2 separate regions of the Homo sapiens genome follow, and region 1 is linked to region 2. The links come from fine-mapping of genetic effects on gene expression. A gene starts in region 2. The other region holds a variant in brackets. All regions are shown on one strand. Distances are from middle to middle. Region 1 has its middle 20 kb from the start of DEK. Region 2 holds the start of DEK (DEK proto-oncogene).

Region 1 (5,379 bases), 20 kb after region 2:
CCTCCTCTTCCTCTTCTTCCTCTTCCTCCTTCCTCCTTTCTTCTTCTTCTTTCTTCTTCTTTTTATTTAAGAGACAGTGTCTTGCTCTGTTACCCAGACTGGAGTGCAGTGGCACAATCATAGTTCACTGCAGCCTCGAACTCCTGGGCTCAGGCATTCCTCCGGCCTTGGCCTCCTGAAGTGCTGGGATTACAGGCACAACCCACCACACCTGGCCTGGAAGTCCTACTTCTTGATGCTTTTGTCTTTCAAGATCATCTGTCTTGAAGATCTACTCTCACTAGTTGTAAAATAATTTGTCCTCATATATAGGCACTGAAAGGATTGAATTCAATCTTGAGAGAACATTTAGAGAGATATTCTTGCTAGTACCACAATTTACTACCATTTATTGAGGTACTTTACCTACATTAAGAAAATATCTTTACGGACCTAAGAAGTAGCCATTATTATTCCCTTTATACAGATCTGTGATTCAGAGAAGGGAGCATCTTGATCAAGGTTGCATACCCTTCTAACATTCCACATTGCTTCCCTAATAGATACAAGCTGTGGAGTGAGTCTATAGATGATTATATACTCATTTTAAGATATCTGGCCAGGCGTGGTGGCTCACGCCTATAATCCCAGCACTTTGGGAGGTCAAGGTGGGTGGATCACGAGATCTCCTGATCATCCTGGCTAACATGGTGAAACCCAGTCTCTACTAAAAATACAAAAATTAGTCGGGTGTGGTGGCACGTGCCTGTAGTCCCCGCTACTCAGGAGGCTGAGGCAGGAGAATCGCTTGAACCTGGGAGGCTGAGGTTGCCGCGAGCCAAGATCGTACCACTGCACTCCAGCCTGGGCAACAAAGCAAGACTCCTTCTAAAAAAAAAAAAAAAAAAAAAAGATATCTGAGCTATTTCCTAATTCTGAAAAGACTTTGCAACTAGGGCAGAGATCTTGGTCTGTTATGTTTGGTGATATATCCCAAATGCCTAGAAAAGCACTTGACACATTTAGGAAATACTTGTGGAATAGAAATGTTTAGTTTGGTGTGATCCTTCCAGATGTTTTACTATGAATTTACATGCATATACACAAGCCTAGAAAATAATAGCAAAAAGGTGTGTTTTTATATCTCATACATGAACTTCAAGATAATTCAGGTGTTACCTCAAAATTTCCCTCAATCACAGCACTTAGTGCACTGTATTGTCATTGTCTAATTATTTGTCAGTCTCCCTCATTAGACTGTGAGCTCCTTGAGAGTAGGAAGCATGGTTTTTTTTTTTTTTCATCTCTGTATCCCCAGGGATAGCACATAGTAGGACATAATAAATGTTGAATGGTTAAAAAATAAAAAATGTGTTCCAAAGCAGAATGAATCCTTAATAATCAAGATGTCTTTAAACATACATTTAAAAAAATAATTTCATAAACTTTTGGTGATTTACAAGACATCTATAATATGATAAATTTGCACACTCTCCATTGCATTTTTTTTTTTTTTTTTTAAACAGAGTCTTGCTCTGTCACCCAGCTGTAGTGCAGTGGTGTGATCTCAGCTCACAGCAACCTCTACCTCCCAGGTTCAAGCCATTCTCCTGCCTCAGCCTCTGGAGTAGTTGGGACTACAGGCTCATACCACCACACCCGGCTAATTTTTGTATTTTTAGTAGAGATGGGGTTTTGCCATATTGGCCAGGGTGGTCTCAAACTCCTGACCTCAAGTGATCCGCCCACCTTGGCCTCCCAAAGTGCTGGAATTATAGACATGAGCCACTGCACTTTGCAGGTGATTCTTTACTGCACGATAACTTTTTATTCGAGGCTTTTTAGGAGTTCTGTCTTTTAGTGTCATCATCCTGCCAGAGCAGTTATAAATTAAAATGTGTACTACTTTATTAGAATTTACTTTATGTAAATTAAAATGTATACTACTTTATTAGAATTTACTTTATGTCTCCTTTATGTTATAATCAGGAGGTTGAATTGTTTTGTTTTTAAAGTATGTATGTATTTGGCTATATTTTCTATTTCACTTCAAGATATAAAAGGGGTAGCTCACAAAATATTTGTTTTAAAAATGAACATTAGTCTGGTAGGGTTCAAGAGTCATTGTTCTATACAAAATATTTATTAATCTGAGACAAATCTAACAATTTAGCAGTAGTACAAATTTTACCTTCAGTTCCATGAATTTTTATATATATATATATATATATATATATATATATATTTTTTTTTTTTTTTTTTTTTTTTTTTTTTTAGATGGAGTTTCATTCTTATTGCCCAGGCTGGAGTGCAATGGTACAGTCTCGGCTCACTGCAACCTCTGCCTCCCAGGTTCAAGCGATTCTCCTGCCTCAGACTCCCAAGTAGCCAGGATTACAGGTGCCATGCCTGGCTAATTTTTTTGTGTTTTTAGTAGAGTCAGGGTTTTACCATGTTGTCCAGGCTGGTCTTGAACTCCTGACCTCAGGTGATCAGCCCGCCTTGGCCTCCCAGAGTGCTGGGATTACAGGCTTGGCCAGAATTTATACATTTTAATCTGCTTCTTTTGGCCTTTGTTATTTATTATGCTTTGTTATTTATTATGGCCTATGTTATTTCTTACATGAAGAGGTGAACAATTGCCTCATTACAATGGAATCTTAACACTTCTACCCTAGGAGAAAGCCTTGCATCTGGAGAGGGCTCTCTTTCTCTTTCACTACCATTCTTCCAATGCATTTGTTTCCATATCCCGAAAGGCAAAGGCTATTCTCTGAATTAGGAGGTTCATAGAAAACCTTTGTAAACACTTTGAAAGGCTCTACTTTGGGCCTAGTACAGAAAGCAACTGGCCCTCAGCCATTCTCTTGGCAGGGGTCAGCTTCCTGGTCTGCAGCTTGGGAACGTTGACAGAATGTGTGCCCCTTCCCACCTTTGTCCCCTTTTTTGGAGAGTGCGTAATTAATGCCTCATGAAATCTTGCTTTAAATTTTCAAGCTAGCCAGGTATGGTGGCTCACACCTGTAATCCCGCCACTTAGGGAGGCAGAGGCGGGAGGATCGCTTGAGGCATGGAGTTTGAGACCAGCCTGGGCAACATAGCAAGACCTTGCTTTTCACACACACACACACACACACATACACACACACACACACACACACACGGAAAAAAAGTCAAGCAACTGCTTTTAACAATACTTTCCCCCATAATATTTAATTAGTCATGATTT[G/T]TTTTCTTCTAAAGTCATACTCTCAGCCAGGCATAGTGGCTCATACCTGTAATCCCAGCACTTTGGGAGGCCAAGGTGGGTGGATCATGAGGTCAGGAGTTCAAGACCAGGCTGGCCAACATAGTGAAACCCTCCTCTATTAAAAATACAAAAATTAGCCAGGCATGGTGGCACACACCTGTAATCTCAGCTACTCGGGAGGCTGAGGCAGGAGAATCACTTCAACCTGGGAGGTGGAGGTTGCAGTGAGCTGAGATCGTGCCACTGCCCTCCAGCCTGGGCGACAGTGTAAGACTCTGTCTCAGGAAAAAAAAAAAAAAGTCATATTCTCCATTAGCATACTTTATCATCATTTAAATATTTTCTGGGAAACCATGTGAGCAGAAAGAGGTAAGAGTATTTGGAGAGTATTACATTTAAAATTGTTTTTATATCAATTTAAATTTATAAATAGGCTTATGGGCCAGGCACAGTGTCTCACAGCTGTAATCTCAGTATTATGGGAGGCCGAGGTGGGAGGAGGATCCCTTGAGCTCAGGAGTTCGAGACTGGCTTGGGCAACATAGTGAGACCTTGTATCTACAAAATTTTTAAAAAATTGATGAGCGGGTGTGGTGACTTATGCCTGTAATTCCAGCACTTTGGGAGGCAGAGGTGGGCAGATCACTTGAGGCCAGGAGTTTGAGAACAGCCTGGCCAATAGAGTGAGACTCTATCTCTACTAAAAATACAAAAAAAAAAAAAAAAAAAATAAGCTGGGTGTGATGGCGCATGCCTGTACTCCCAGCTACTCAGGAGTCTGAGGCACGAGAATCACTTGAACCTGGGAGGCAGAAGTTGCAGTGAGCTGAGATCGCGCCACTGCACTCCACCTTGGGCAACAGACTCACTTGGGCAACATGTCTCAAAAATAAATAAATAAATAATAAGTAAATAAATAATTAGGTGTGGTGGTGCACGCCTGTAGTCCCAGCTACTCGGGAGGCTGAGGCAGGAAGATTGCTTGAGCCAGGGAAGTTGAGGCTGCAGTGAGCTATGGTCATGCCACTACACTCCAACCTGGGCGATAGAGGAAGATCCTGTCCCTAATAAATAAATAGGCTTATGAAAAAGGTTAAGGAGCATTTCAGGCAATTGCCTTATTTTACATTTTTGGTTGGGAAAATACAGAGGACTTTAAAGATGAATATCAAAACTACCTCCAAATCTACCATCCAGAGATAACCACATTTAACAATTTGGTATGACTTTCATAGTTATTTACTACAATAATGTGTGTGAGTATATATGTGTACTAATTTTGTTGTTACAGAATTGACACTTTTTTCTATGCATTTTGCTTTTTGACCTACTTTAAAAGAATTTAACAATATATCATAAGAATTGCCCATGCTATTGAGAGTGTTTCTTTTGTTATCTGGATAATACTATTATGTTTGCTCACTTTCCCTGTGATAGTTTGGAAGGTAGTTCTCATATTTTAAATATCCACTACTGCTGCCTTTCGGGTTTTTGTTTGTGTGTATGTATATATGTATATGCTAATGTTTTTGTTTGTGTGCGTGTGTATATATATATATATATATATATATATATATGCACATGTATATGCATGTTTTCCCTAATCAATGCCAGGAGAAAACGGTATTTATTAACTTTATTTCTGCAAGATGGGAAAGTTGGCACATTTACTACCTCTCTCTCCAACTCCCACGTTTCCTAGTTTTTTGTTGATACAATCTAGGATTATTTAAATCAATTATTATCATTATTAATAAATGCTGAAGTCATATATTTTCTTTTTGTATTAGGTTATTTCTTGCTTCTGGCTTTATTATTTAAAAACTGTAAAATCGACAAATAATTGTACATATTCATGCAGTACATAGTGACGTTGTGATACATATAATGTATAGTGATCAGATCACAGTAATTAGCATATCCATCATCTCAAACATTTATCATTTCTTCATGTCGGGAACATTCAGTATCTTCCTTCTAGCTATTTGAAACTATATACATTCAATATCTTCCTTCTAGCTGTTTGAAACTATGTATTATTATTAACTAGAGTCATCCTACAGTGGTATAGAACACTAGAACTTAGTCCTCTTTCCTAGCTGTAATTTTGTTCTGGTGAGCCCAGATCGCACCAGTGCACTCCAACCTGG
Region 2 (5,379 bases):
TCATAGGTGGAAGAAACTCATCTTCAGATGAAACTCTGGACTTACAGATTTGGGACTTCTGTGTTAATGCTGAAACAAGACCGGACTTTGGGGGACTACTGCGAAGGCACAACTGAATCTTGAAATGTGAGAAACATATGAGAGTTGGGGGACCGGGGGTGCAATGATATGCTTTGGATGTTTGCCCCCTCCAAATTTCGTGTTGAAAAGTGATTTGCAATGCTGGAGGTGAGGCCTGGTAAGGTGATTAAATCATGGGGGCAGATCCCTCATGAACGGCTTAGCATGGTAATCCGTGGTGGTGAGTGAGTTCTCTCAAGATTTGTTTAAAAGAGCATGGCACCTCCCTCTACAACTTGCTCCCACTCCCAAATGAAATGCCTGCTCCCCCTTTGTCTTCTGCCATGATTGGAAGTTTCCTGAGGCTTTCACCAGAAGCAAATACTGGCGCCATGCTTCTTGTACTGTCTGCAGAACCACGAATCAATAAAACCTATTTTCTTTATAAACTACCCTGCCTCAAGTGTTTCTTTATAGTAACGCAAAAAAAAAAAAAAGCCTAATACAGAAAGTATTTCACTGTCTGGCTTCCATGATGCCTCAGTTCTAAAGTTAAATATTCAGGGTTAAGTAAAATAAAAACTTTCACAATTCTACTTGTCCCACAAACACCTCAAATTAGTAAAAAGAATAATAAATCACAGCTACAATAAAACTATTAGGGGATAAAATTTCTACAACATCATGTTTTTAAAAATAATTTGTCTAGAACAAAACATGGGATTCTTTCAACTACCAACTCTTCCCCAAGCATTACTGTGTTGGCCACTTACAGTATATTTACATGACTTCTCTAATTTTTTCCTGACATGAAGAAAATTCACCATTTCTTTGGCATCTCAACCCTGCCCCCACCAGAAGACCAAAATACAAACAAAAAATTGGAGAAAAAGTGCAGAGCCTCTTTGGCTAGCAGCGAGATAGTGCAGCCAATTTTGTTGTTGTATTAAAAATAATTTTAAAATAACATGTTGTTAAGCAATAGTTTATGTGAAAACTTATATTTAAAAAGCCATGCTTTACTTAAATATGCCCTTCTTAGGGCACATACCACTTTAAACAAACAAAAGGCACACCTTGTAATCTTAACCCAGATTGTGACCACAGGCTGGTTGAGGCTTAAAAAAAATCCGGGTTTAGGAAGAGCGCTTCAACCTCTTCCCAAGTGTGGCTGAGTCGTAAACATATACGAAATAACCGCAGACTAAGCTAATATCAAAGAATGCTAAGAGATGCGACTCGGATTTTTAAATGTTTGGAAACATGTCAAGAAGCGGGTACACCTGAAACAGACACTGCATGCATCCTGGATAAACTGCCGCAGCACACTCCTCTATTCAGTCAAGTTTCCGTTTCACACCTCCAGTCAAATCAGGGCTCATATCGCCCTCCCTTAAAACAGACACAGGTTCGAAACCGAGACAGTGCTGGGCTCACATTTAACTTTCTTTCAGAGTTCACTTTCTTCATTTTTAACTACTTTCTCAAGTAGCAACAGCTTTCACCGCTGTTTGCCAGGGAGGGAAACTTTTTGGTAAATGTAAAAATATTCGAAAGTATTCAAATACTTCCGGGTCTAGCCTTATAACTTCAGTCTTAACGGGCTGCACCAAGACCTTACAATAACTTCAAAAGGCAAAAGATGTGTAATGAAAAGGACAAAATTAGAACATCCACTTAGCAACTTCAAAGGTGCACACACACAGGTAAAAAAAAAAATCAAATCCAAGACCTACAAACTTCCCGTCAAATGATGAAATGTTAACGAACGTTTAGAGCGGACGAGAAGTCGGCTGCACTCCAATACATCTCTACCACGCTAACAAATACTTTAAAAACCGGAATACACAAAGTCAATTCTACGCCATCGCTCAAAACAAAAGCAGATAAATTGTGCACACATTCTCGCTGAAAATCACTCCGACTTCACGCCTCTAAACACCAAAAGAGCAAGAAAACTGTTTCCTGGGTGAAAAATACAAAAAAACTTCGGTCTGAAAAATTCATCAGTTGGGATGCGACTCCCCCCACCTTTTTCCTCCTCCTCCTCCTCCTCGTCGTCCTCGTCCTCTTCCTCCTCGCTCTCCTCTCTGGGACCGGGCATTTCGGGTTCTTTCTCGGACGCGGGCTGGGTGGGGGTTCCCTCCCCCTCCGCAGCAGGGGCCGAGGCGGACATGCTGTGAACCTGCATGCGGGAAGAAAGCCGGACGTCTCGGTCCTCCTACTCCCGCAGGCAGGACCGGGCGGCCACCCTGAATGATGCTACCCTTCCCGCGGGACACCTGCCCTGAAAGTTGCCTCCTCCCATAGCCGGGACCGCAGCGCTCAGTCCCCAGGGGCGGCTTCCCTCCCGCTCCGCCGCCGCCGTCCAGGGATTCCCGAGGCGGGAAACCGCGCCCGCTGCCCCGCGTGCGCGCGCGCCCGCCCGGCCTGCGCTGTTCCCGGCCCGGCCCGAGCTGCCGGCCCTCCACGTCCCCTCCCCCGCCCCAGGCCGCCGTCCAAATGGCCGCGTCCCTCCCCCGTCGGCCGCGGCAGGGGCGACCGGGCCTCCGGCGTCCCGAAGCAGCCCTTACCGCGGATTTCGGCCGCCGCGGGCCTGGCACGCGAGGGCACGAGGAGGTTCTGGGAGGCGGCGGCGGCCGACGCCGAGGAGAAGGCGCGCGGGCCGCTGTCTGGCGTGACGCTCGCGCCGCGCGCTCGGCTCCCCAGAATCAACAAGATTTTCAAAATGGCGGTTCGGGAAGGAGAGCGGGAATGCGGCGACCAATCAGGGCCGCGAGCTGGGAGTTGGCGGGCGCGGGGCGGGGGAGGCGGGGCGGCCGGGTGCCTCCGCGGGAAGCTCGGGCGGGCGGGACCGCGAGGGGTCGCCTCGGCCGCGGGCGGAGGGATGCGCGCGCGGGGCTCTCCCCGGCTGCGCCTGGAGTGTGGTCGGCGCTCGGGCCCCGGAGTGCGGGCGGGCTGTGTCCCGCGGGGCGGGCGGGAGCGGGAGGCGAGGCGGCCTGGCAGCGCGGAACGGAAGGACGCTAGGGGGCCTGCGTGTTTATTGTTTCCACGGTCGCTTCCTGGAAAAGATGATGAGCAGTCCCGGGCCGCGGAGGGGCGCGGCGGGCGCGGTAAAGAAGTTTAGAGATCTCCGAAGTCGCTATCGACAGTGTTACTCTGAGGCGGAGGAGAATTAATCAGCGGTCTCATCAATGCTCCAGAAATCATGCTGGGTGATAGATAACTCCCAAATCTGTATTTCTGAGGACCGCATCGCTTGTAAGGTGCACCGAAAGGAAAAAGATCCTACCTGCCACGTTAAAGGTTCACATAGCCAGCCACATAGATTTACACCCCTGTAAATATAAGGGGAGAGGCTCCCTCCCACCCCATTCCTTCTCCTCTCCTCTCTCACACACACTCTCTGTTTTATAATAGAGGAAATATGTTATTTGGCCGGGTCCAGACCCTTCTCCCAGAGTTCTAGGTCATCTATGCAGATGCTTTTTACACATTCAACACTGCAGACACTCAAAGCAGTATCTTCCCTGCTCAATGCTGCCTTCTTTTGTATGTGATTTCCTTTATTTTCTCCCAACTCTTCAACCACTAGCTCACCTGAAGGATCCTTGTACTCAGTGGACTTAATAGAAATGTGATCAGTGAAATTTGCCTGGACTCTGGGTTGCAGGACAAAAATTAGACATTTCCTTTGAATCTTCCCTTTTCCTTTTGTTCCCCTTCCAAAACATACGCGAATAGTGTCATTTCTACCCTCAAACGGTATGCCATTTTCCACACTATTTATCCCACTCAAATCCTATCCACACTCCACAGCTCATCTCTCCTTCTTGCTGCCTGCAACGTGGTTGGGAGTGGGGGGTTGTGTTTCACCCCTATTTGTGTTACAGCTCTTTCAATCCTACCATTTGGCAGGTCCTGAGTTCTGGTCCTGTGTCCAGGAAGAGTGAGGCACGCAAACAACTGGAGGGTGAGCAAGGTGGACAGGAGCTTCACTGAGGGACAGAACAGCTCTCCTGAGACCTGAAGTGGGTTGCTCCTTTCTGCAGGGGGGTTGTCCCGACTAGCGTCCTGCCCTCAGTGGAGAGGAGACCCATAGTGGGCAGCTCCTTTCTGCAGGCAGGTGGTCCTGACGAGTTGAGGAGACCAAAGTGGGTAGCTCCTTCCTGCAGCTGGTAGGCCTGAGCGCTGGCTGAGTCTGGGGTTTTTATGGGCTCAGAAGGGAGGAAGTGTGTGCTGATTGGCCCATGGGTGGGCCCAGAAAAAGCACCACTAGTTTTCACTCTGGGCTGCAGACTCTACCTGGAACTGGCCACCAGGCCCCCCAGGCTTCAGGCCATCCCTGGCTTGAAGGTGGGCAGGGACCTACCCCTTTCCCCCCAGGAACGTGTCTGCCTCCCACCATCAACATGTCATCCATGGCGCCCAGGCTGTTTGTGCTGAGGGGTGCCTGCAGGCCCACGCGGAGCCACCCTCAGCCCCACCAGCCTCTTTCTCGCACTTGTTGGTGCCCAAAGTCCAGAGAGGGCCAAGGCGGCAGGTGGCTGGTGTGTCAGTGCTGCCCTGAACACGTGCACACCCAGCTGGGTTGCAGCAGCGCCCGTGCCTGGCCACAACTTTGCTCCGCCTTGGAGTGGGCCCTGGGAGTGGGTAGAGAGAGGGTAGAGGCCTGGGAACAGGCACATTCTTTTTTTTTTTTTTTTTTTTTTTGAGACAGGGTCTCACTCTGTCACCCAAGCTGGAGTGCAGTGGCGTGCTCTTGGCTCACTGCAACCTCAGGAGCAGGCACTTTCAGCCTGCAGGGGCAGGGGGTTTCCTGGGCCCCCAAGAGTGCAGGGATGGCTGGGTGCAGAGCTGCGGCTGGACGGCTGCAGCTGTGCCCAGGAACATGGGTCTCCCGCCTCGCTGACGTGGTAGGGGACGGGGCTCTTGCATGTTCCTGGCGCCCGCTGTCTCTGAGGAGTGGGCAGCTCTGGCCACGCCTTCCATACTGCAGCTGGCATCCCCTCAGCAGCTGCTCCAGACAGGCTGTCACTGCCATCAAGACAACGAGCAGGTGAATATATATTCTATGACAATTAGTGATAGCAGTAAAGCAAGTTAAAGAAGATAGGAAGTACCAGTAGGGTGGATGGGATTTTGTTTTATATATTCAACAATGAAGCAATGACTTATTAATAAGATGACATTTGAAGAGATCCTAAGAAAATGGGAGATCTGAAGACCCACTAGGTTATTCCAAAGAATGCTCTAAAGTTTTGGATGTGGGGCACGAGAGTCAGGTAGAAATCAGTGATGACCTTGGGGTTTTTGGTT

The links. PIP is the estimated chance that this variant, and not a neighbour inherited with it, causes the effect. A credible set is the group of variants that fine-mapping cannot tell apart.
Region 1: its variant is the best candidate, but not a certain one, in a credible set for the expression of DEK in whole blood (INTERVAL, PIP 0.60).

What each region holds. Positions count from the first base shown.
Region 1 is chr6:18,281,776-18,287,154 of GRCh38, forward strand. No RefSeq gene overlaps it. Among named protein-coding and RNA genes, the nearest start is that of DEK, 20 kb to the left of the region's middle. The variant G/T (reference allele first, on the strand shown) is at 3,209.
Region 2 is chr6:18,261,752-18,267,130 of GRCh38, forward strand. It overlaps DEK (DEK proto-oncogene), which reads right to left and starts at 2,779. Exons shown (of 11, transcript NM_003472.4): 1 at 2,634-2,779; 2 at 2,092-2,245. The coding sequence starts at 2,236. LOC124901270 (a long non-coding RNA gene) reads left to right here and starts at 2,781. Exons shown (of 2, transcript XR_007059486.1): 1 at 2,781-3,326; 2 at 3,979-5,379. RefSeq lists an enhancer at 1,903-2,454 and silencers at 2,340-2,399, 2,460-2,819, 2,860-3,139.